Homo sapiens: one gene and its partners. The protein of the gene in region 1 interacts with the protein of each later gene in a biochemical or structural test. Each region holds a gene or a part of one and is shown in the gene's direction. Other genes may lie near its edges.

What was found.
Region 2: the proteins of FGFR1 (region 1) and L1CAM form a complex in vitro, tested with the Homo sapiens proteins (one study listed by BioGRID).
Region 3: the proteins of FGFR1 (region 1) and FGF5 interact in a test that uses a peptide from one of them, tested with the Homo sapiens proteins (one study listed by BioGRID).
Region 4: the proteins of FGFR1 (region 1) and FGF3 interact in a test that uses a peptide from one of them, tested with the Homo sapiens proteins (one study listed by BioGRID).
Region 5: the proteins of FGFR1 (region 1) and PKM form a complex in vitro, tested with the Homo sapiens proteins (one study listed by BioGRID).
Region 6: the proteins of FGFR1 (region 1) and ZMYM2 form a complex in vitro, tested with the Homo sapiens proteins (one study listed by BioGRID).
Region 7: the proteins of FGFR1 (region 1) and ITK interact in a test that uses a peptide from one of them, tested with the Homo sapiens proteins (one study listed by BioGRID).

What each region holds. Positions count from the first base shown.
Region 1 is NC_000008.11:38,462,136-38,465,635, reverse strand, and holds part of FGFR1 (fibroblast growth factor receptor 1 isoform 1 precursor), read left to right. Parts: intron 1-3,500. UniProt on the Homo sapiens protein: Tyrosine-protein kinase that acts as a cell-surface receptor for fibroblast growth factors and plays an essential role in the regulation of embryonic development, cell proliferation, differentiation and migration.
Region 2 is NC_000023.11:153,879,674-153,883,173, reverse strand, and holds part of L1CAM (neural cell adhesion molecule L1 isoform 1 precursor), read left to right. Parts: intron 1-2,455; exon of another isoform or gene 2,456-2,502; intron 2,503-3,500. UniProt on the Homo sapiens protein: Neural cell adhesion molecule involved in the dynamics of cell adhesion and in the generation of transmembrane signals at tyrosine kinase receptors.
Region 3 is NC_000004.12:80,269,664-80,273,163, forward strand, and holds part of FGF5 (fibroblast growth factor 5 isoform 1 precursor), read left to right. Parts: intron 1-3,500. UniProt on the Homo sapiens protein: Plays an important role in the regulation of cell proliferation and cell differentiation. Required for normal regulation of the hair growth cycle.
Region 4 is NC_000011.10:69,812,943-69,816,416, reverse strand, and holds part of FGF3 (fibroblast growth factor 3 precursor), read left to right. Parts: coding exon 1-97; intron 98-3,474. UniProt on the Homo sapiens protein: Plays an important role in the regulation of embryonic development, cell proliferation, and cell differentiation. Required for normal ear development.
Region 5 is NC_000015.10:72,203,691-72,207,190, reverse strand, and holds part of PKM (pyruvate kinase PKM), read left to right. Parts: coding exon 1-64; intron 65-310; coding exon 311-463; intron 464-3,500. UniProt on the Homo sapiens protein: Catalyzes the final rate-limiting step of glycolysis by mediating the transfer of a phosphoryl group from phosphoenolpyruvate (PEP) to ADP, generating ATP.
Region 6 is NC_000013.11:19,961,727-19,965,226, forward strand, and holds part of ZMYM2 (zinc finger MYM-type protein 2), read left to right. Parts: intron 1-3,493; coding exon of another isoform or gene 3,494-3,500. UniProt on the Homo sapiens protein: Involved in the negative regulation of transcription.
Region 7 is NC_000005.10:157,243,340-157,246,839, forward strand, and holds part of ITK (tyrosine-protein kinase ITK/TSK), read left to right. Parts: intron 1-283; coding exon 284-455; intron 456-922; coding exon 923-1,139; intron 1,140-2,386; coding exon 2,387-2,451; intron 2,452-2,541; coding exon 2,542-2,660; intron 2,661-3,500. UniProt on the Homo sapiens protein: Tyrosine kinase that plays an essential role in regulation of the adaptive immune response. Regulates the development, function and differentiation of conventional T-cells and nonconventional NKT-cells.

The sequences.
Region 1 (3,500 bases):
TATTGCCGGCCGTCTTTGCCGATGGCCTGCCTCCCTAATGACTTGTTTACATATCCTACCCCCAGTGGGTTAGGAGAAGCTCCGGGGCTGCCCCGACCCTCCGAGTGCAGGGTGTTTGGGGACCGGGAGGCTGCTGGGGCCTGACTCCAGCTGGGAGGGTTATGAACTGCATCAGTGACGAGCTGCTTGAAATATCTGTTGCATTTACTCTTAGTCATAGCTGAGTGTCAGCTTTTTAATGAGGTTCATCCAGATTGAGAGCCACTTGGACTGCGTACTTCACTGCCTGCTTTTCCAAACATGCCTGCAGAAATGCTCATTTTCGAGGTATTTTTCCCAATGGGAATTCAGGCCAGAGTGGGCACCACTTGAACAATCTTAGGGTGCTTCTTTTCCTTGGCCTCTGGCCATGGAGGGTGTTAGACAGTTCCATTAGGTGGCCCTTTGATAGCAAGGGAAGCAAAGGCTCAGGAAGAAATGGAGAAGCGTCCCCCACTCCCTAGGGGCAGAGGATTAGATACATCGGTGCATCCCTCAGGCTGGGCTAGCTTTATTCCTGGTGGACTCCAGAGGGCAAGAAAATTGAATTGAACACTGGGTAGGCAGATTCAAGCCTTAGAGACCAAGGAAAATCCATGGGTTTTGCTTTTAGTGGTGTGCTCTTTGTTTTCAGTATTGACCTGAAACAAGACTCCTAAAATGAGAGATTTGCTGGTATGAACTTGGGGGTTTAGCAGCCGGCTTCTACAAAGGCTTTTTTCTTGCCTTCGTTTCTAAAGTGTCTTTCGTCAAAATGGCTGTTAGTTATAGAACATCCTAGCAAAGTTTGAGCCTGTTGCTGCTGGAGGAAAAGGAGTTAGAATTGATTCAAATGTCTTATTCTGAAAGGGCCTCACATCACTTGATAGTTTAATTTCCTCCTGGGAAATTTGTGTCTTACATTTGTCTTCCCCAGAGCTTTGTAAAAGGCCTGAACGCACCAGGGACTAGTGGGAGCCCAGATGCAGAGCTTTAGAGAAGATTCTGGTGTTTCCAGAGAGGATGAAATGTCAGACTTGGGCTAGGATATTTGTTTTTCCTCCTAAGGTTGCATCTACTTTAAACAGAAATTCTCTCCTCGCCACCATTTATCTCTCCCCTGCAATGAAAGAAACCATGTTTAGGGCCCTCTCCCCCATTTAATAGCCCTCACATGGATGAACTATCCCAAGAATTTGGTGGGGTTCCACTCATAGTACATCCTGTCTTCAAGAGCAAGGTTTTCTAGATTATGTGCAGCAGTTCGTGTTTCACTTGTTGCTTTTTTTTTTTTTTTTTTTTTTTGAGATAGTCTCGCTCTGTCGCCCAGGCTGGAGTGCTGTGGCGCTATCTCAGGTCACTGCAACCTCCGCCTTCCGGTTGAAGCGATTCTCCTGCCCCAGCCTCCCTAGTAGCTGGGATTGCAAGCATGCGCCACCATGTCCGGCTAATTTTTTGTGTTTTTAATAGAGATGGTGTTTCACCATGTTGGCCAGGCTGGGCTTGAACTCCTGACCTCAAGCAATCCGCTGGCCTCGGCCTCCCAAAATGCTGGGATTACAGGTGTGAGCCATTGTGCCTGACCACTTATTGCTAATTTTTTATATGTCTCTTACTTCCAAGGACATTTAGACACTTTTTTTTTTTAAAGAGACTCAAAAAATTAGCATTTCCATTGGACCAACTAAAATTTAGCAAGCTGAGCTGAGTAACTTTCTCCATATGTTTATTAAGTACTTGCCCCCTGCCCTCTCAACATGTGAGTAGAGAATGGTCACTTTGGGGAAGAAATAAGTCTTATTCTCATCTGAAGGGATTAATGTTTTGGTGTTACTTCCTCAATTCTGAAGAACCAAGTTGTCCAGAAATTTTCTCAGGGTTCTTTGGACTAGAGTTTGGCTGGTTAACAAGGGGTACTACCTAATTGCTTTTCTCTGATATTCTCAGCCTCTTTTTCTGGAGGAGTATCTCTGTCAGTTTCTTTTCATCAGCCCTTTTTTTTCCTTCATTCACTTACTCATTCATCCAGTTAACAAACATGTTGGCATCTCCTGTGTACATGCTAGGTGCCGAGGGTGTTAGCAAAGGTTAGGGAGGCACAGACCCTGTTCTGAAGGAGCCTGCAGTTTCGTGGGGAGAGAAGAGAATGAAGAACATAAATAACAATCATATAATATGACCTAAGTGCTATGTGAGAGGGGCTAGTAATGTGGTTTGCAAATTTGGAGGAATGAAATTCTCCAGCTAGAAGGCCCAAGAAAGTCTTATGGAAGAAACAGCTTCTTAAGGTGGGGTTCAGAGAAAAGGGAAGGGCTGGCCTGTTGCAGAACAAGGAATGGCATGAAGAAAGTCTTGCACAGAGGCATGGATGTTGCTTCGAGCTGTGGCGCCCTATAGAAATAGAACATGAGCAGCTGGTCACAGTGGCTCATGCCTGTAATCCCAGCACTTTGGGAGGCCAAGGCAGGCGGATTGCTTGAGCCCATGAGATGGAGATGAGCCTGGACAACATGGTGAGACCCTGTGTCTACCAAAAAATACACAAATTAGATGAGTATGCTCGTGCTTACTGGTAGTCCCGGCTATTCAGGAGGCTGAGGTGGGAGGATCACTTGAGCCTAGGAGGCAGAGGCTGCAATAAGCTGTGATTGCACCACTGCATTCCAGCCTGGGGGACAGAGGAAGACCCTGTTTAAAAAAAAAAAAAAAAAAAAAGCCAGGCACAGTGGCTCATGCCTGTAATCCCAGCCCTTTGGGAGGCCAAGGCAGGTGGATCACCTGAGGTCAGGAGTTCAAGACCAGCCTGGCCAACATGGTGAAACCCTATTTCTACTAAAAATAAAAAAATTAGCCGGGCTTGGTGGCTCATGTCTGTAATCCCAGCTACTTGGGAGGCAGGAGAATCGTTTGAACCCGGGAGGCGGTGGTTGAGCCAAGATTGCGCCACTGCAACTCCAGCCTGAGTGACAGAGCAAGACTCCATCTCAAAGAAAAAAAGAAAGGAAGAAAGAAATATAACATTATAACATGAGTTATGTATATGTTCAGATTTTCTAGAAGCCACATTGGAAATTAAGTTAAAAGAAAGAAATAGGTAAAAAAAATTTTTTTTTTTGAGACGGAGTCTCACTTTGTTGCCAGGCTGGAGTGCAGTGGCGCAATCTCGGCTCACTGCAACCTCTGCCTCCCGGGTTCAAGCAATTCTCCTGCCTCAGCCTCCTGAGTAGCTGGGACTACAGGCGCGCGCCACTGCACGCAGCTAATTTTTGTACTTTTAGTAGAGACGGGGTTTCACCATGTTGGCCAGGATGGTGTCGACCTCTTGACCTCGTGATTTGCCCACCTCAGCCTCCCAAAGTGCTGGGATTACAGGCGTGAGCCACCGCGCCTGGCCAATATTTGTTTTTTAATTAACTTGTTTGTTTAGATTTTATTTAATGTAACTATATTTCCAAAATATTATCATTTGAACATGTAATCAA
Region 2 (3,500 bases), on another chromosome or scaffold:
CTTGAGGGCCCTGAGGTTGTGCCCTGTCCAGCAGCCACTCAGCACCCTTCTGCTGGACTCTACGCCTTGGGGTTGGGCCCAGACCCCCCATGGGGGCCTTGTCTGAGTGGAAGGCTGTATGGGGGGTGCCTGGTGAGCAGCAGCCAGACGAGCACTGGGGGAGGTAGCCCGCCCAGCTTGCCTCTTCCCCAGATATCAACAGGGTCTTTGTGGCTTCCTGAAGGCTGTGGCTGGAAAAAGAGGGAGGAGCTGGGGAGGGTCTGGCCGCTGTTCTTTCTAGAAGCTTTTCTTTGTCCAGTGGCCCCCAGCCCAGGTCCCCGTGTTCTTCCCAGGTTGGAAAGCTGCAGAGGGAGTGCCCAGCCACTGTCAGTCAGCAGCTCCTGCTCATCTCTGGCCCTTACACCCAGCAGGGGCAGCTGCGAGGGCCAGGGGTTGGGTGGGGCAGGAGGGTGGCAGCGTCCTGGGCTCCATGCACTTGGCCAAAGAGGACTTCTGAACCCGTCCATCCCAGTGCGGGTCTGAGAGTGGAACTTGAGGGAAAGGGACTGAGTCCCGGGAGCCCCTCTGCCCCCTGCCCTCCAGCCAGGCAGACTTCCTATCTGCATGTATGGGGTTTGTGTCTCTGCTTGTGTGTGTGTATTTGTGTGTGTGTAACCTCCAGTATTCCTGTTTGTCTGGGTGGGGTCATATATTTGGTTGCATGTGTGTGTGTGTTCGTGAACCAGCATGCACACACATATTGTCATGAGGCCACGTGGGTCTCCTCAGATGCCCCAACAGGGCCTGTGCTGGGAAGGGGTGGGGCTGAGGGTGGCTGCTGCAGTGGCTGGATGGGGACAGAGCCTCTGGCCAACCCAGGCTGTGCTTCAGTGGAGGGGGGTTCCCTGTGGCCCTGTCTCCCAGCCATCTGCGTCTGTGTTCATGACTTAGGAATGCCCAAGCCCTGGGGATCACAGAGGCCCCATTGTCCGCCCCCGGGCTTCCTGTGTCCCCCTCTGCCCTTTAACCCCTCGGGAGTGGGGCCCCTGGAGGGGGCCCGTGGGGCCTGGCAGTGTCTGAGCTGTTTCCAGGCACCCCCACCCCGCCCCCCGCAAACCAACACAGGCTAGGTATCCCAGGACTGCTGTGGGCCAGGGCCTCTCCCTGCCCCAGGCTGGGCTCCTTCCCTGCTCTCCTTTTCAGGCCACAGCCCCAGGAACTGGATGCAGTCTGTTCCTTCTGGCCTGGCCGCTGAAGCCCCCTCTAGTGCTAGGGTCATCCTAGCTCCCTGAGGAGGCCTGGGGCCTGAGAGGAGCCCTAGTTTTGCTGCCACCTCATTTCTCTCGCCTTCTAGGGGTCTCGGAGGCTGAAGCCTTGCCGCCTGCTGGGCATCAGTATCTCCTTCGACACAAGAATGGGGCCACTGCTGTCCCTAAATGCTGATTGGAGAGGGGCCTCTTTGGGAGGGGTTCTGGAGCCTCTGGTTGCAAGAAAGGTATCAGAACAAGTCCAGATTCCAGAGAGCAGAAGAGGGGACCAAGAAACCAGCCTGTCCCCAAGCCCAAAAGGGAAAGGAGTTGGCCTTCTCTTGGACTGAGTACCTGGATGGGGGACTTGGGGGTTTGTTTGGTGTCGGGCTTCAGCTCTGTGCTGAGACGTGATGTTGATCACATCCTACTTCCGCATGGCCTCCATCCCAAGATGTCACTCCCTGCCCCCGACATTTGCCTGCCATCTGCCTGGCAAGTAAGCCCTCCCCACGGGGCAGGATGGCTTGGAGGCCATCCTCGCCCAGGCCCCTGGTTCCCTGGGAAGCCCAGCAGGCACACATGTTGGGATGCCAGAGCCTCTGAGAGGCAGCTTAGGGAGCCACCACGCCCTCTAAAACCCCACCCCTGCTGAGACCCAGTGCCAGCTCTGTGATCTTGGACACAGTTTCCAGTTTTCTGAGCCTCCGTGTCCTCATCTGTAAAATGGGGATGATGATAGCACCTCCCTCCCTGAGGCAAATCTGGGGAGGAGATGAGTGGATGTGAGTGGAAGTGCTCATGAGGCTTTCTGGTACGTGGTAAGTCCACGCTGTAAGTTGATTTAATAGAACAGACCACAGAGGCATGTGATTGTGGGGATGGAGTGGGGCTCCTCCCTCCCTTCCCCAGTAGTCAAGACCGTCCTCCCTGAACCCCACAAAGGGTTAACCTCCGTCTCTTTTCCCCATCTTTTAAGGAGAATGGTCCATTACAGGTGAGTTGTAGTTGCCTTGGAGACTGAAGCCTCAGGCGAGATGAGGGGGCTGAGGGCTCACTCTCTCCTAAGGGTACCCTCTTAGGGAGGGGTGAGGTTGGGAGTGCAGGGACTAAGCAGCAGTCATAAAGGACTTCTGGGCCCCCAGGTACCTGTGGGGGCTCCCTGGAGCAGCCCCCTTTATGTGCTGTCTACATAACACATAACAAGGCTTTCCTCTGGCTTCCCCCACCTCTGGGACTTGGGCTGCATCACCATAGAAACCCGCCAGCCACGGCCTGGGGAGCGGGGCGGGGAGGGCCAGCGGGAGCCTTAAAGGGACACAGTGCACAGGGTGTAGGTGACACCCACACCATCGTATACACACCAACAGGCACAGAAGCCCCCCAGGCTCCCAGGCCTGCAAGCACATGGGCCCAGCACCACACTCTGACCCTTTCATGTGCCCTGTGCTGAGCCCCCAGCCCCACCCCCACTCTGGCCCACTGAGTCACCAGGCACCATGTCCCCAGGAGACAAGGGCAGGAGAAGCCGGATAGTCTCTGCTGTGCTGTTGAAGGGCTCTCTTGTTGCTTCTCCTTTGAGAGGAACTCCAGGCAGAACCTGAGAACTGACAGGCAGGTGTGCAGGGCACATGTGCAGGGCACCGCTGGAGGTTCCCTTCTCAAGGTGTGTGGTGGTGGTGGTGATGGGGTGTGTGTGTGTGTTTTCAGGGAGGAGGCAGTCACTCCAGGTCTAGCCAGGCTCCACAACCTCCCAGGTCCCTCCCTGGCAAGCTGCTTCCCATCAGACCAAAGCAGGCACTTTGGAGCAGAGGACAGAGGACTCCCTGAGGGACCTGCGGGTGTAGTGGGAGGCCAGGTGGGGTGGGATGGGGCAAGGCTCTTCTGGGGCTGAACCCCTCCCTGTAGGCTGCTGGGCGTGACCCTTGCCTCCCTGGCCCTTTCCCACCGGGGAGGATGGGTTTGGGACCGGACTTACTCAGGAATGGCCCCATCTTCAACTGCCCCAGCACAGCGGCCACTGTCCACTCAGTGCATGGTCACGCAGGCTCACTCTTGGCCTAACACATGTGCGTCTCCTCCAGCCAGGTGACCACTTACTCCCAGCCAGCAGCAATATTGGAAGGCTTCCCTGGGATTTTCTGGGTGCTTCCCCCTCCCCCCGTTCCTACCCGCAGCAGGAATCCCCCGACCCCCACCTGTTCCCTGGCATGGCATGGGTCAGCCAGCAGTGTGCCATTCATCCTGTCTCACGGCCGTCCCTTGCCCAGTGCC
Region 3 (3,500 bases), on another chromosome or scaffold:
TTAGTTTCTGTGTCTTTCACATGACTTGCTTTCATTCATGCCATAAATCATGTACCCAATATAAGATACCTATCTCACTAAGCATGATATTTTGGTTACTTTTGTGTTGTTTGTCTTCCATAGAGTTTTTTTTTTTTTCCCCAGAAGAAAGCATAGCAAATATTCAAATCATAGTAATTTTCTGCTTTGTGATATCTGGAGTGTCTAATACTACTTCATAAAATTTTTACTACCTTTGATCAATGCAGAATTTGCATGTAATTTGGGAATTTAACATGGATCTCTGCCATTACCTAGCTGTAAAAGAGAAACAGAAACTTGCTAATTACAATTGGTCATTTACCTCTTTGAAGGCAGTAGTTGATGTTTCCTGACATTCGTGTAAACTAAGGTGTTGGCCATGGCCTTTCTTAGAGTATGTGAGGAAATGTGTTTAAATCTCCTAAGAGAGGCTGAGAGGGCTGGATCAAGGGCCACAGAGGATACCTCAGTTTGATCTCATCTTCTATTTCTACTGTATGTGAGTTAGTGATGATAGAAAACCTATTCTTTTTGTTACAACCCTGATACTTCAGAAAAGTCAAAGCTTTGCCATGAAACTGCATTCTAACAAGTTATTTTAAACCTAATAATATTCTGTAGTATTTGTCTGATAGAACAGATAATCATATGTGTTTCGCAAACTATTATTTGACAGTAAACTTTTTTTTTTTTTTTGCAAATTGCAAATGTTTTCTGGTTTCACCATGAGAAGTGCACCATGGCCATGGACTTTCAAACATAATTTGTTTAGTTTACATGGACCAATTAATATACTCTTAGCTTCTCTTACACAATAATTATCCCAAGTTTTGAACACAGAAAATGAAATCAAGCTCATTGTATATAAATCCTTATTATGAGGAAATACTGTGGAAAAATGAAGAAATATGAACAAGGCAAGATAGATGACCCAACTATTGCATGGAAACAAATGGTTTGGTTTAATTTATACGCCTTCAAGTTTAATGTCAATACAGTGCTTCTGTTGACTTACCTTGGGCCATTGAAGAATAGGCAATCAAGTAGTTGTCAGTTTAGGGAAGAAAAGTTTAAGGCTTTGTCAAAGCGTTTACATAAAATATGAAAATTCCAAGCACATATTTTGGTTAATAGAATCGTCGATGTTACTGCTTTTTAAAAAAATCTAAATTCACTACCAATTTTGGGGTCATGTGGAGTCATTAGACAGTCCCCCAAGCCTAGATAAATCAGAATCTATATCTACTATGCAGAAAAATCAAGTGGAAAATTTCTGTTGCTAATTTAATCAGTGAAGACTGCTAAACTGAATATTTCAAGATTCAGATTTCATAACTTGGCACAGCATATCTGTTACTTTGTGGATGCAAGTAGAGAAACTTCAGTTTTAAAATATTTTTGTCTGGGGATTTTCAGATGCGTTGTTGAAAGCTTCTGAATACATGGAATATCTGTGCTTTTCTATATTTTATTCATTAACAAAAGAGAGAAAAAGGAAAAATGTGTATAGTTGTATCAACCACTATCAGTAGAGCCCTATTATATTAAGAAATCTGCAGAGGACTAAGTCAAAAATCTAGAAATATGTTTTTTTTTACGGAAGTAAGCTTACATCATAATGCATAAGTGGAATAGACTGTGTGTATAAGCTGAGAGACACCAAGACATTCTTGCCTTCTTCAGCCTAGGTGTCAATGCTGAAATTCCACAAAGAGAATAATTCCTTCTGTTAAGCATTCTCCTCTTCTTTTGACCCTCTTAAATGGGAACACCTTAAGAAAAATAACACACTGTCTGTAGCACTTTAATGTGAATTTATTTACACTGAGCCACCCGTCCACCCCGTGCCTTCTCAAGCAGGAGAAGGCCACAGTAGCAGGAGAGTACTAAGACACCTGTCCATACTTGTGTATGCATGGGGTGTCCTGACAAGAGAAAAGAGAGGTAGTGAGAGGATCAAAGAAGGCAGTCAAATTTAGCAAACAGTCATTGACTATATACCATCTACAAGACAAGCTTGGCCTTCCACAGTTTGGCTTAGAAATACTGCCTTGGCATCCATAAGGAGAATTGTAAGTTTCCATCAAATTTAATATGCGTGACTCCCGATGATAAAGGTCAGAAAATTACTGAAATTAAAAAAAATCAATGTCAGAGAAATGTTTTCAGAAATTTATATATTTGTGATTTAAGGCACATGGGTTTAAAAAATTACGTAGAATTCCTGAATGAGTTACTGAGATTTGTCATAGCAAAATCAATAGGCCTGTGATGTTTTGGGGAGGAGGGCAGGAAACTGAACTGTGAGACTCATTGAATCTGCTCCAGAAAACAAGGCATTGTGAAATCACTGCTGACATTACTTTGGAAATTATGATCATAACAGTGTTCTTAATATTAGGTCATAATTACGGTAAGATTTAGAAGATCAATACCAAAGTTACTCACGTGAAAAATAATTCATTCATCTAGTCTCATCTCTTACATCTCCTGCATTCTTTATAATGTTAAATAGAATGACATATGTAAAGTGTATTTTTAAGCTTTCAGTTAAAGATAATTTTCTTAAGGTTATAAAATCTTTTAATTCTCAGGCACTATATCATTTTTATCCTGGAAGTTTTAAGAAGAAACCCAGCAATATGTAATACAATAATAACACTTTCACATATATTATTTCATCTTCCCCATATTTAAAATACATTACATGCAACTTGTACATAATATATACACAGAGTGTACACTGTATTGAAATACATGTTAAATGCATCTAAATGGGTCTTTGTTTAAAGAGAGAATGAGCTAATTATCAGAAACTATTTATTTAAGCAAAGCAGTAGTATTTCTATTAAAACAAATATTTATAAAGCCTTTTTATCTCAACATCTTAAAAGTTAGCATATAAACACATACACTTATGAGACTTTAATCTTTTATTCTGCCATGTATTTTTTCATTAATATACAATATATCTGCATGTTCAAAACCAGATAATTTTCCAGGGAATGGAATTAAAAGCCTCTAACAATCTAGCACCATGAGTAAATTGGAGGAAATATACAATCAAATCTCTCCTGTATCAACTCCATGTTGTCCCTTTTGTATCCATCATTCCACACATATACAATTTCCTTCTTTCTTTCTTTCTCATTTTTGAATGCACATGTTTACATAAATATTCACAATCACATCCCCCATCTCCCAAATATCTAAAATCATTAATGCTATTCCCAATATCATTCCGTATTTCCAATAGAAATTTAACTTTGTATCACTGTTATAGTCATGCTTTAGTAATAATATTATTATAACATATTACATCTGTGTAGAGTAACTTTACAAAGCATTTGGTGTGTTTTGTTAATATTTGATAAAATGATAATGCTTCTAAACCTTTAGAAGCACACTCAAACAATGTTCATAATAAATCCTATTATAAATAGCATTTAAAAACATTTTGAAGGAAAGGATTTATACAG
Region 4 (3,474 bases), on another chromosome or scaffold:
GGAGATAACGGCAGTGGAGGTGGGCATTGTGGCCATCAGGGGTCTCTTCTCCGGGCGGTACCTGGCCATGAACAAGAGGGGACGACTCTATGCTTCGGTGAGTCCAGGCTGTCACGTGGGTGGGCGCTGACGGAGTAGCGGTCTGGCCTGCACATCAAGCCAGGGGACGGGGGATGTGGGCAGTAGAATGCTTTGCCAAGGGTACACGGGACCCAAGCTAGGACCAGACCCTGGCCCAGGGCTCCACGCCCAGTGATCTTTGGCTGTGTCTGTTAGAGGCTGCTCCGCGAGTGACCTGGAGCCTGGCCCTGGGGGACCTGGGATCTGGAGAATGCCAGGTTAGCAAAGGTTTCCCCCATCCTTGTCATCACTACCACCCTCCCTTGAGAGTAGCTGAGAGCAGGGAAGTGATTGTTCTCCAAATTTCCACCAAAATAAATGGACCCAAGACAACCTGGGAGTGTTCCTTGGGGCAGCCAGAGCTCTCCTGGGAGCATGGAGAGGAGGACGCTGGCCCAGCTCCACCGGCTCTCTCCAAGGGTGGAAAGGCGAGAGCTGAAGCCTAGGAGGGGAAGGGGGATGGCGCCCATGTCCCGGGCACACAGGAGCCTTGGAGCCCTGGCTTGGGACCCAGTCTATCTACTGCCTGGGCCTCCGTGTAACCAAAAAGGGTCTCCTTACTCTGTGGGTATGGCAGCGCCCCTCTTCATAAGGGGTAGGGGTGGGGAATACACAGAGTAAAATACATGTCACAGGGAAATTTGCTACCTCCAACTAGTCATTACATGCAATTTGGCTGATACTTCCTTGGGCAATGAGAGGTTTTCCATCCATGAGTAGCCTGGCTGACGCGGCCCAAGGACAATCTCCCTGCAGTGAGCTCTCTGCTCAGTCCTGCTCACAGAGGACACATCCCGCAGCTCCCTCTCGCAGAAGCTGATGATTTCATCACAGATTTTTAGCCGTTTTGCTAAAGGAAGGTCCAGAAAGCCGGGATGCGCCCCTTCATTTTCTCTGGTCCAGAGGCTACTCCCTCCTTCCTCCCATCCACTCACCCATCCACCCATCCACCCATTCACCCATCCACTCATCCACCCATCCACCCATCCATCCATCCACTCATCCACCCATCCACCCATCCATCCATCCACCTATCCATCCATCCATCCACCCATCCACCCATCCTTCCATTTACCCATCCACCATCCACCTATCCATCCATCCATCCACCCATCCACCCATCCACCCATTTACCCATCCACCCATCCACCCATCCACCTATCCATCCATCCATCCATCCATCCATCCACCTATCCACCCATCCACTCATCCACTCACCCATCCACCTATCCACCCACCCACTCACCCATCCATCCACCCACCCACTCACCCATCCATCCATACACCTATCCATCTGACATTCAGTCCATTCATCAGTCAGTGTCCTGGAAGCTGTGTCTGGGAGCAGGGGCCCTCATGGTGCCAGCTTCTGCCATAGGGGAGCCAGGATTTGGAGAGACAGAATAAAGCATGACATGAGGGGGTCCCAGTGGTTCAGAGCCCACCTGGGGCTTCCGTGCCTGAGAACTCACAGCCTGGCTTTGAGAAGGGTGGACAGAGGCTCCTAGCCCCACCAGGGATGCTTAGCCAAGCAGTCTGGCTGGAGGGTGTGGAACTTTCCAGAGTGCCCAGTGGAGAAGTTCCCATTGCCCTGCAGACAACCTGGGAGGCATAGTAGCCTGGATGCCAACTCCGTCACCTGCCACCTGCCACCTGATACCACAGTCCTGCGTGCGGCCAGCTTGCCTAGGAGTGCTGTCCCACCACGGGGCTCCCTGGACTTTGCCGGCAGCATGCTTGCCCTCAGGCCAGCTCATCTCACTGTGGGCCAGTGAGCACTGCACCCTGACACTCCTGGTCTGGCCCTGACCTCCCTTCTGAGGTATAGACCACCCTCCCCCAACATCCTGCTGACTCAGACACTCGAACCGAACTCAGCAGCTCCCCGACTCCCCATCTTAATCATCGCCCCACCAGCCACTCACTCTCACCCAGAGTGGGCTGGGAGTCATGGTAGACCCCTCCTGCTATTCAGTCCATCCCTAGTCCTCAGACCACGCCCCTGCATCTCTTCAGCCCACACACCTCACCTCCCTCTGCCTCATCCCTGAGAGCACGCCTTAAAAGGCAGGCTCATCACTTCCCACCTGGATCACTGCTCCAGCCTCTCCTACCTCCAGTCCATCTGTTTGTCAAGCCATCCATCCATCTTCCTTCCTTCTTTCCCCTTCCTTTATTCTCTTCACCCATCTGTCCATACACCTCTCCTTCCTTCCTTCTTTCCTTTCTCTCATCCTTCTTTCCATCCATCCTTCCAACCGTTCATCTGTCCATCTGCCCATTCACATGTCCATCCGTCCATGCTCCCTCCTTCCTTCCATCCTTTCACCCATCCACCCATCCACCCATCCACCCATCAACCCATCCACCAATCCATCCAGCAATCCACCCATCCATCCAGCCATCCACCCATCCATCCATCCACCTATCCATCCATCCACCCATCCATCCAACCAGCCATCCACCCATCCACCCATCCACCCATCCACCCATCCATCCATCCATCCATCCATCCATCCATCCATCCACCCATCCACCCATCCATCCATCCAGCCATCCACCCATCCATCCATCCACCTATCCATCCATCCACCTATCCATCCATCCACCCATCCATCCATCCAGCCATCCACCCATCCATCCATCCACCCATCCACCCATCCATCCATCCATCCATCCACCCATCCATCCATCCATCCACCCACCCATCTATCCATCCATCCATCCACCCATCCATCCATCCATCCACCCACCCATCTGACATTCAGTCCTTCGTTCACCAGTCAGTGTCCTGGGCACTTACCATGTGTTGCACTCTGCTAGTGCATGTTAAAGGGGCTTCCTAAAAAAGCAAATCAGCCCAGTTCATGGCTTCTGAGGACTCCCATGATGCGCAGGCATCCCCCAGGCACCTTAGCTCCACCCACAGAGCAGCAGCCCAGGTGCCATCTGCTCCCAGGGGGGCTGTCATCCAGAGGTTGAGCCTCCTCCGGCTTCCGGAAGCCCCCTCAACTCTCCAAGCCATCTGTACTGCTCAGGCCACACCTTCACTGCCTGGAACGCCCTCCTCCAGAAAATGCCCATGAGAAAGTGCCCGCCCCGCCCTTACAGCTCCCTTTAGAAGTCACCTCCTCAACAAAGCAGCTTCGGAGTCGGCTTCCTCCCCACCCTTCATGGGGTGGAAGCGGCCCTGGGGGAGGGGCCTGTGGAACCAGGTCTGGTGGGGCGGCAGTGTCAGGACACACATTGGAAAGTGTTGTCACAGCGAGTCCCAACTGCAGTAGCTCTGGAGTCTATGGCCCTGGCCCCTGAGCCAACACCTTCTGCCCTGGTCATCTTGGCCACCCCAGGTGC
Region 5 (3,500 bases), on another chromosome or scaffold:
TGCTCAGAAGATGATGATTGGACGGTGCAACCGAGCTGGGAAGCCTGTCATCTGTGCTACTCAGGCATGTGCCCACCCTTCCCCACATTCTCATGTGCACACTCGCATGTTTGTATGGGAAAGCTCTGGAGGCTGTCTGATCTCTTCCCATGGAATTGTCGCACGTAACACACAGATAATCCCCTTCCCCCATGTACCTACACAAAGCCATACTCTGTGTACCTACTCACTATCCAGAGGATCAGCTTGCTGTCATTTGTCTCTGAAGACAGCTCAAGCTACATCTCACTAATGCTCTGTCCCCTCCCAGATGCTGGAGAGCATGATCAAGAAGCCCCGCCCCACTCGGGCTGAAGGCAGTGATGTGGCCAATGCAGTCCTGGATGGAGCCGACTGCATCATGCTGTCTGGAGAAACAGCCAAAGGGGACTATCCTCTGGAGGCTGTGCGCATGCAGCACCTGGTGAGTTCTGGGGCCTGCCCCATCCCCCAGGGCTTCGGACTGGGCCTGGGATGGATGCAAGCTCTGGTGCAGAGCTTTTTAGGTTTCTCCATCCTCTTATGCACAGCCTTTCATTATCCTCCAAGTTACAGCAGCAAGAGGGTGGGGGTGGAAGTGGAGGTGGCTTTTTTTTTTCTCCTGTTCTGCATTCCTGCCCACACCCCCACCCCTCCATTTCCTTCTGCTCTGGAGGCATCCTCCTTCATTGGACACCACACAGTTTATTTCACTTCTGACTTCAAGGTTGTGAATTCTTCCCATGGCTTAAGTCCTGGGATACTTCTGCAGTGAAAGGAGGTCTTGTACCTCTTCCTCAGAGTCAGAAGTTCTGAGTACCTTTGCCCTATTCTGAAAAGGGCTAGGGGCTCCTGCTCCCAGCTGCCCTCTTCCTTTGGCTTCCAATTCAGTTCCCTCTGCCCCGCATCCTGCAGACAGGCGCTCCCGCAGGGGGCCCTTGTGGACCTGCACTGGAGTCTGTTGCCTTCACTGAGCTGCCTGTGCTGGCCTTGCATGGTGCCTGTAGGGGGATTTGCTTTGCTGTGCCATTGGGGTACAGCTGCTGCTCTTACTCTAGACCAAAAAGTCGGGTTGAGTGACTGGTGGCAGGGCCACAGATAGAGACAGCGGGGAGGGTGGCTGACCCTGGCGGCCCTGGACTGAGCGTCTGGAGGAGTCGTGGAGGCTCTTTCCCTTCTTTCTCCTCTGAGAGCTCGTTCTTCAGGCTCTTCCAGCTTGTCATGTCGAGTGCCTGGCCACTGCTCAGGGTTGGAGGCTCAGTCCCTTTGCCCTGTCTGTTCCAGCTCTGGAGCTAACTCAGGGATCCCTGATCAGGGTTACATAGGTTTGGTAAAATGAGTGCTGGAAATTAACTTTCTCCCAGTAGTCTTAGGTCATGCTCAGTGAACTTAAACTTTATCCAGATATGGTTTTCCTTCAGCCTTTCTATTCCCTTTCTAGCCAGTGAAAGACCCGCTGCCCTTTGACCTCAGCCCCTCCAAGCCCCCAAGTTTAAAACGCCACCCCCTGCCACCAGAAAAAACAGAAAAAAAAAAAAAAAAAAAAAACTAAAACACCCATCTGGTCTGGGCATCTTCCTTTCCTTTTTCACTATGTATCCTGTTACTGGGCTTAAACAGCTTTCAGAGAAGAGATGTCATTTCTATTAAATGCTCTTTCAGTAGCGAACTGAGTTCACACTTGACTAAGGATATTTTCCGGACTGTCTGTCATCAGCATCCTTAGTGGGTTTCCCCATATTTAAATTGGTAGAGGCCAGGGATGGTGGCTCACACCTGTAATCTCAGTACTTTGGGAGGCCAAGGTAGGTGGATTGCTTGAGCTCAGAAGACCAGCCTGGGCAACCTGGTGAAACCCTGTCTCTACTAAAAATTCAAGTTAGCTAGCTGGGCATGGTGATGCACTTCTGTAGTCCCAGCTACTTGGAGAGGGGGTGATGCTGGGGCAGCAGGATCGCTTGAACCCAGGAGGTTGAGGTTGCAGTGAGCCAAGATGGTACCAGCCTAGGTGACAAAGTGACACCCTGTCTCAAAAAAGAAACCAAACAAACATAAAAAAAAAAACAAAAAAATCGGTAGAGAGTGATTTCTCTCCCAGGCCCACTTAATGTAGACTGGGCCTGGCTGACACCTCACCATTCGTGTGATGTGATTGCTGTTCTGATGCTTAGATACTCTTGGCGCAGTCTCACAATTGCCACCATGGTAGGAAGGTGTCCCAGGAGACGGTGCACCTTGAACCAGTCACCACTAAAGTGGCTGCCTTTCTGGGTCTCTCCACACATCCCCTCTCTCTAATTTCCCTACTTAATCGTGTGACTTCATGGTCTCAAAGGAGGAACAGAGGCTGATCTTGACTTAGATATACTGAACCATGAAATCACTGCATAGAATGTGGGGACTTGAATGTGTCTTTGGGCAAGTCATTTAACCTCTTAAGACCTCATCTGTAAAATGGATTAGATATGTTTAATTATAGCCTTAGCATTAAATATTCATTGCTGTTATTATTAAGTGTCTGATAAGTCTCTGTGTACATGGATGTAATCTTCCTAACTCCCATTACCTCCATTTATAGATGAGGGTTATATGGCCAATAAAGCCTGGGTTTGAATCTAGGTCTACTGCCTCCAAAGCCAGTCTTCTCTCCTGCAACATCATGCTCTGTCTAGCAGGAGATGAGAACAGGTCTCCATTTGGAGCCTGTCAGTGGGGTCAGAGACTAAGATTCAGGCTCAGGGTCTAAATTCCATATCCTTTCTTCCATACCCTGGTGTTTCCTATGAACAGATAGATACTTTAGGGCTGCAAGGTTTGGATTGCATGGCACTGCTCAGAAGATAAGTTACAGGTCTGGGCTAGGCTGTAGCTGCCCCTCCAGGTGGCTAGACCTTTCCTTTCTGTGTCACCAGTTAACACTGGCCAACAGTTCCTTCCATTAACTGTTCACTGCTTTCTCCTGTGTCTAACTGATGCAGTTTATGACCCATAACTAAGAGCAGTACCAGGTATGGCTCTGTTTCCTGTTCATGTCCCCTGTCCTCTGGGCTGCATGCATTCCGTTCTTACAGAAAGAATACCTTTAACCTAGTACATCCTGCCACACATCTGCTTCTACTGTGAAATTGATGAGGGGGTATTACCGATTCTTCCCTCACCCATCATTTACTGAGATGCTGGTGATTGCATTATAATCCTCTAAAGCTTACATTGTCTTTCTGATTCTTGGTCTTATCTGAGCAAGTGATCTATAAATAACTCAGTGGCTTTCTCATGACTGTTTTAATTATTAGATTTTAATCAAGTGTCTTATTAAATATATCTGCATGCTTCCACAGGCATCTGTCTCTTCACATGGCTGTTCAGTGTGCCTCTCACAAGTTAGCCCACGTTTTCTGTTCTCCTGCTTCAAACTCAGTTGAGCTGCCTTGCTTTGGCTTTGATCCCAGCTTTCCAGCGCTGCTCAATCTGTTGCCATGGCA
Region 6 (3,500 bases), on another chromosome or scaffold:
AATACCAGAATGGTTCTTGTTTTGCTTAACGATTTAGCTTAGAGTTGAACATTTCTTTACTTAAAAACAGCAACTAGTGATGCTGCTATGTGCTAGACAGTAAGATGAAGATAACCTGATGATTTTTAATTGGCCTTGACTAAATAAGTACTTTTATTATACAGTAGGAACATATGTAAATGCTTTTAGATCCATTTACAAAGTATTTTGACAGTTAAAAATACTTTGCATATTTATGGCATATTTCTTTAGTGCATCCTTTCTAATATCTGTTCCCTCCCACCTATCCTTTTAAATTGTTGGGAGGAAGATATAAAGTGGTCCCTACTTTTCCATGGGCTGGGCTTTTGTATCTCATGTGGTGAGACAATCCTGAATCACTCAAGTATGACATATATGCTGACATATGAACATTTTTAACTTCTGTGTGGATATAGAGCTTATATTATCTTTGAACAACAGTTTTTATTTTTTCAGTTTTATTGTATTTTGCCCTTGTTTGAGGTACAGAAGTGTACAAATTTAATATTAATGCATTTGAGACAAAGTGAATCTTTACCTTCAGTCAGATGCTCTGGTATTAATGTGATGGGAAGAATGGGTATGAAATGCTGAAACCCTGGTGTCAAAAGGCATGGTATAATTAGAATTGTTATATTTCCTGTCTCTCTAGCATTAATATGTCTCTATACCATTTGACAATATTATTAATATATATCATAATAAATGTCGTTGATTATGAGAAGACTGGGCTATTCAAATTGCATGGGATATATATATATATATATATTTTTTTTTTTTTTTTTTTTTTTTTTGAGATGGAGTTTCACTCTTGTTGCCCAGGCTGGAGTGCAGTGATGTGATCTTGGCTCACTGCAACCTCTGCCTCCTGGGTTCAAGTGATTCTCCTGCCTCAGCCTCCCAAGTAGTTGGGATTACAGGCATGCGCCACTGTGCCTGACCAATTTTGTATTTTTAGTAGAAACAGGATTTCACCATGTTGGTCAGGCTGATCTCGAACTCCTGGCCTCAAGTTATTCGCCTGCCTCAGCCTCCCAAAGTGCTGAGATTACAGGCGTAAGCCACCTTGCCCAGCCATTTTTTTTTTTTTTTTTTTGAGACAGAGTCTCTGTCATCCAGGCTGGAGTGCAGTGGCGTGATGTCTGCTCACTGCAGCCTCCGCCTCCAGGGTTCAAGCATTCTCCTGCCTCAGCTTCCCAAGTAGCTGGGACTACAGGCACGTGCCACTACACCTGGCTAGTTTTGTATTTTTAGTAGAGATGGGGATTTTTAGTAGAGACAAGGTTTCACCATGTTGGCCAGACTGGTCTCGAACTCCTGAGCTCCGGTGATCTGCCCGCCTCAACCTTCCAGAGTGCTGAGATTACAGGCGTGAGCCACCGTGCCGGCCTGCATGTGATTTTTTTAGCGAATGCAAGGAGAGCCCAAACTCAAGTGTTTTCTCTCATTGGATTCACAAATAGTATTTTATGTAGGGCATTTCAATTTAGGGAAGAAATAAATTGCTTTGACTCCCTGCGTTTTGCTCCTTTAAAAACACTTCAGTTGGTTAATTTTCTTATATTCCTGTCAAAGCATAGAAGTGAACAGGACTTTTGAAGTATTCAGATCAAAAAGTTCTAATGCAGGTCTCCAATATATAACACTTACAAAGTTGTCAATGAGAAAAATTGCTGTTGGATAAATCCATGAATTTGAGTGCAGCAATCTGAGTAACAGTTGCAGCTTATTTTCATATTTTATTTTGGTTGTATACCAGCAAGAATTTTTTTTTTTATGTAGTTGGAGTTGCACATTTTTATATTTACAACCTGGTTTTTTAAACAAATCACTTCGTAGTCTTTGATGTCTCTTACTAAAATAGACATATGAAAAGGGTCTTTATGGTCATCACCAAATGCTTGGCAACAAGATGAGTTGGTCATTTTAAAATGTGTTAAAATTTGGATTATAACACATTTGAACATATCTGTTGTTTTTGTGCATATTTAAGATATATTAATTTTTTTTGGATCAAGCTTTACACAATACTTGAAGCACTTCTGTGGAGCTGCAGAATGAATTTTCGTAAACATTTTTTAAACTCTTTTTAAGAGTTTAAAAAGATGTGCAGAGAGGTTAGCAAAATCACTTGATTAGTATGACTTTGGGATTTGTTCTTAGTCCTGTTTTATTTTTAACTTTATAACAGTCCATTGAAAATTAGAAGTAATAAATTTTAAGAAAAATCAATGCTCTTTAATTTGAAAGAAGGGTATAGCTGTTGGGTTTTAGTTTTACTGATTTGATTAATGTTCTGTAAATATTCATGTTTGCTATTTCAAGAAATGACATAAGAGTAAACTGGTTGGCCGGGCTCAGTGGCTCACGCCTGTAATCTTAGCTTTGGGAGACTGAGGCGGGTGGATCACCTGAGGTCAAGAGTTCGAGACCAGCCTGGCCAATGTGGTGAAACCCTGTCTCTACTAAAATACAAAGATTAGTCAGGCATGGTGGTAGGCACCCGTCATGCCAGCTACTCAGGAGGCTGAGGTAGGAGAATCACCTGAAACTGGGAGGTGGAGGTTGCAGTTAGCCAAGATTGCACCACTGCACTCCAGCCTGGGCAATAGAGTGAGAGACCGTCTCAAAAATAAAAAAAAAAATAAAGTGATTATTCACAGAAATAGATAATGCATGTTTAATAGGTCGGTTTTTTGTAGAGACAGGGACCCACTTTGTTGTCCACACTGCTCTCAAACTGCTGGACTCAAGCGATCTTCCCACCTTGGCCTCCCAAAGTGTTGGGATTTCAGGCGTGAGCCACCATGCCCAGCCAGTAGGTTGGGTTTTTAAAAACTTTTGCACGTTTATGTTTTATTAGTATAAGTTATCATCTTGTTTTTGTTTATTCTTAATTTAGACCGTTCTCTTTAATGTCAGTAGGCTGCCAAGGATTAGGTTTTTCTCTCTTTTTCAGAGGGTTCCAGATTTTTTTTTTTCTCTCTAAGTGTTCCTAGTGAATTTCAAGGTCAGATTAGTTTTTGTGAATTTATAAGTTAGTCTAAAGAGTTTTTAAAAATTTATCCATAAAAATGTTTTTTTATATTACAAGTTAATGTTAAATTGTAATCAGGATAAATTTGCTAGGAATATAACTAATTGTTGCAACTTCATATGCAAATGTTGGGAAAGATCTGTTAAAACTCTTGCATTAAACTTATTTGTCTCTAACCATGCATTTAGGTTGGATAAGAAAAATACTTAAGTTAGTGGGTGCAGCGCACCAGCATGGCACATGTATACATATGTAACTAACCTGCACAATGTGCACATGTACCCTAAAACTTAAAGTATAATAAAAAAAAAAAAAGAAAAATACTTACATAGCTATTCTAAGTAACATTGGGATGCACAGTTAGAAGTTGCAGACAGAATAATGTTTGTAAAATGTGACTATAATACAGTGAGACAAATTCTTTTTACTTTATAGCCATACA
Region 7 (3,500 bases), on another chromosome or scaffold:
GGACATTGCAAGAACCCTTTCTTTAATATTTTGATTAATATGGTTTCTTTAATATCTTCATTAATGCCACTCTCCTTCTTTCCATGTTACCTTCCCACACATATTTTCATAGTTTTCTAGCATATCCTATGTTATTATGTGGGAAAAAGATAATTTATTTGCCATCTTTGAATTATATTAACAATAGGCTAAAATTCTAGTTAGGGCTTTATAGTCCCCTGGTATCCCAATACCTTATATCTACTGCTTGCTGACCCCAGAGAACTCTCTCTCTCTCTTCCAGGGAAATGGGTGATCGACCCCTCAGAGCTCACTTTTGTGCAAGAGATTGGCAGTGGGCAATTTGGGTTGGTGCATCTGGGCTACTGGCTCAACAAGGACAAGGTGGCTATCAAAACCATTCGGGAAGGGGCTATGTCAGAAGAGGACTTCATAGAGGAGGCTGAAGTAATGATGTGAGTGCTCAGAACAAGGATATGCAGAAACTCTGGGGGGAACATCGGTTCAGTGTTCTTGAAATGCCATTCAAACGCCAGGGGGTACTATCTCCCTGCGCAAACTCCCAGCAGTGGCTTCCTATTGCACAGAGAATACAATCAAACTCTTCACAGTGGTCTCCAAGGCCCACCATAATCTGATCATGCCCACCTCCCCCTTCTCAGCTCCTACCCATCTCTCCTCCAGTCCATGACATGCCAGCCACACTGGCCTCTGCTCATCTTCACACACACAGCTGACTCCTTGCCATTTTTCAGGTCTCAGCTCCAATGACATGTTTTTGTTTTGGGGAGGGAATGAATATTATTTTCATCCAAACCATAAATTAGACAAAATGACCATTGGCTATTTTGGTACCATAATATTTTCGGCATTTTTGGGAGACTGAGTTTAGGCCATCTCACCCCTTGTCTTTTTCCTCCAGGAAACTCTCTCATCCCAAACTGGTGCAGCTGTATGGGGTGTGCCTGGAGCAGGCCCCCATCTGCCTGGTGTTTGAGTTCATGGAGCACGGCTGCCTGTCAGATTATCTACGCACCCAGCGGGGACTTTTTGCTGCAGAGACCCTGCTGGGCATGTGTCTGGATGTGTGTGAGGGCATGGCCTACCTGGAAGAGGCATGTGTCATCCACAGAGACTTGGTATGAGCATGCAGGGTGAACACCCACAGGTCCAGGGTAAAGGGACAGTTCTCACTGAAATGACTGGGAACGCATTAATAAATAATACATTACAGATAATCTCCTTTCCTTTCTCAACTTCTCCCTTCCTTCACCTACTTTGGGTGGTCCTAGTGGAAAGGGCTTCATGAGGACTTACTTCTGGGCTCTGATCCCAGCCCAAACTCTTTCACCTCCTGCATTTCAGTTTATATTCTTCCAAAATGGAGATAACTGCCACTCCTTCTTAACCTCTCTGTGACTCAATTTCCTCCTGGTAAATTGAGGAAACTGAGTTTGTCTGAAGGTATTATTCAAGGGTCTACCAGAATCACACTGGGGAAGCCCTTAAGCTACTCTCAGAATCTCTGGTGGCTGGGACTCAGGAATATTCATTTTAACACATTCCCCGTATGATTTGTATGCACATTAAAATTTGAGATATGCAGCTGGGTGCGGTGGCTCATGCCTGTACTCCCAGCACTTTGGGAGGCCGAGGTGGGCGAATCACGAGGTCAGGAGTTCGAGACCACCCTGGCCAACATGGTGAAACCCCATCTCTACTGAAAATTCAAAAAATTAGCTGAGCTTACTGGCGGGCACCTGTAACCCTAGCTACTTGGGAGGCTGAGGCAGGAGAATCACTTGAACCCAGGAGGCAGAGGTTGCAGTGAGCTGAGATCAAGCCACTACACTCCAGCCTGGGTGACACAGTAAGACTCCATCTAAAAAAAAAAAAAAAAAAAAAATTGAGACACACTGGAGTGTTATCTCCAATGGCTTTTTCAATGCAACAGTCTATAATACTAATTAGGGGTCAGGTACTCTCCCTATTGAAGAACAGTTTTAAGAGGATTAACAACATCAAAACATTCTTAATTTAGTCAACTGGGAGATGCTTTCTTCCTGTTATCCCTGATGTTAACATTTCCTATCACATCAGGTTGCATTAGAGCCTATCTTTGGTTAGACAACACCAAGGATTTCTAATTAGAACTCAAGAATGAAGATAAACTTACTCATCTTGATAGTGGATCTTACACATTCAACTTTCCAGTTAACTTCCAGCGGCATTTGTGAGGCTTAATTAACATTTGTAAAGCTCCATGATGCCCTTGTATGACAGCACTGCAGTAAAGCAAAGGACTGTGATTATAGGAGACTCCTTAACTACTGATGACTCATCAACAGTTTTCCTCTCCGCCTTTGTTTGCCTGTCTCCTCTCCAGGCTGCCAGAAATTGTTTGGTGGGAGAAAACCAAGTCATCAAGGTGTCTGACTTTGGGATGACAAGGTAAAAGAGGGATGTGGTGCCGGTGAAGTCTCAGGAATGGGACTGAGGCCCCCGGAACATTCTGACCTTCTCCCTCCACTCTCTTCCCAGGTTCGTTCTGGATGATCAGTACACCAGTTCCACAGGCACCAAATTCCCGGTGAAGTGGGCATCCCCAGAGGTTTTCTCTTTCAGTCGCTATAGCAGCAAGTCCGATGTGTGGTCATTTGGTGAGTGTCATGCTGGGCCCCACTGCCCCATGATCTGGGCTTCAGGCCAGCTGTTTCCTTTATCAAATGCAGACAACCCTACCCACACTGAACCCTGTATCATATCATGAGGGTGTCCCACTGGAGGGTTGTGTAAGAAAGGCCCCGAAAACTATGAAAGGGCCTTCATCATTTTGTTTGTTTTTAGAGATACTGGACATGGTGGTGGGAGTTAATTAAAAGTGGAAACAAGAGTTCTGGTGCCAGCTGCTGTGAAGTCAAAAGCTGGAGAAGTCAGGAGATTCAAATATGAGCCCCTTGAAGGCAGGGACCATGTTTTGTCCAACACTACATTTCCATACTTATCTCTCAATAAGTATTAATATTTATTCATTCATTCAACAACAATTAACTGATCATCTATTCTATGCCAAGGGCTAATCTAGGTGCTGAGGATGCAGTGGTTCATAGAACAGAAAAGACTTCTGTTCTTTTGGAACTAAATTTGAGATGGGAGGGGAGACAGAAAATCACAAAAGATCATAATAACAGTCATAAACAATAATAATAATAAACAAGCTAAGGGATAGAAGATAAAGCCAGGCAATCATAAGTAGGTGCTATGAATAAAATAAAACAGTAATGGGGCAGAGTGACTAGGATAGAGAGAGGGTCTGCTTTGAATAGTGTGGTGTGGGAAGGCCTTTCTCAGAAGGTAATTCTTCAGCAGAGACTTGAATGATAGGAGGGAGCTGTCACCATTTGAAGAGCCAGGGAACAGTGTCCCTGACAGAGGGACCAGCAAGTGCAAAAACTTGGTGCATCCAAAGAACAAGGGGTACTGACTTATTGGGAGAACAA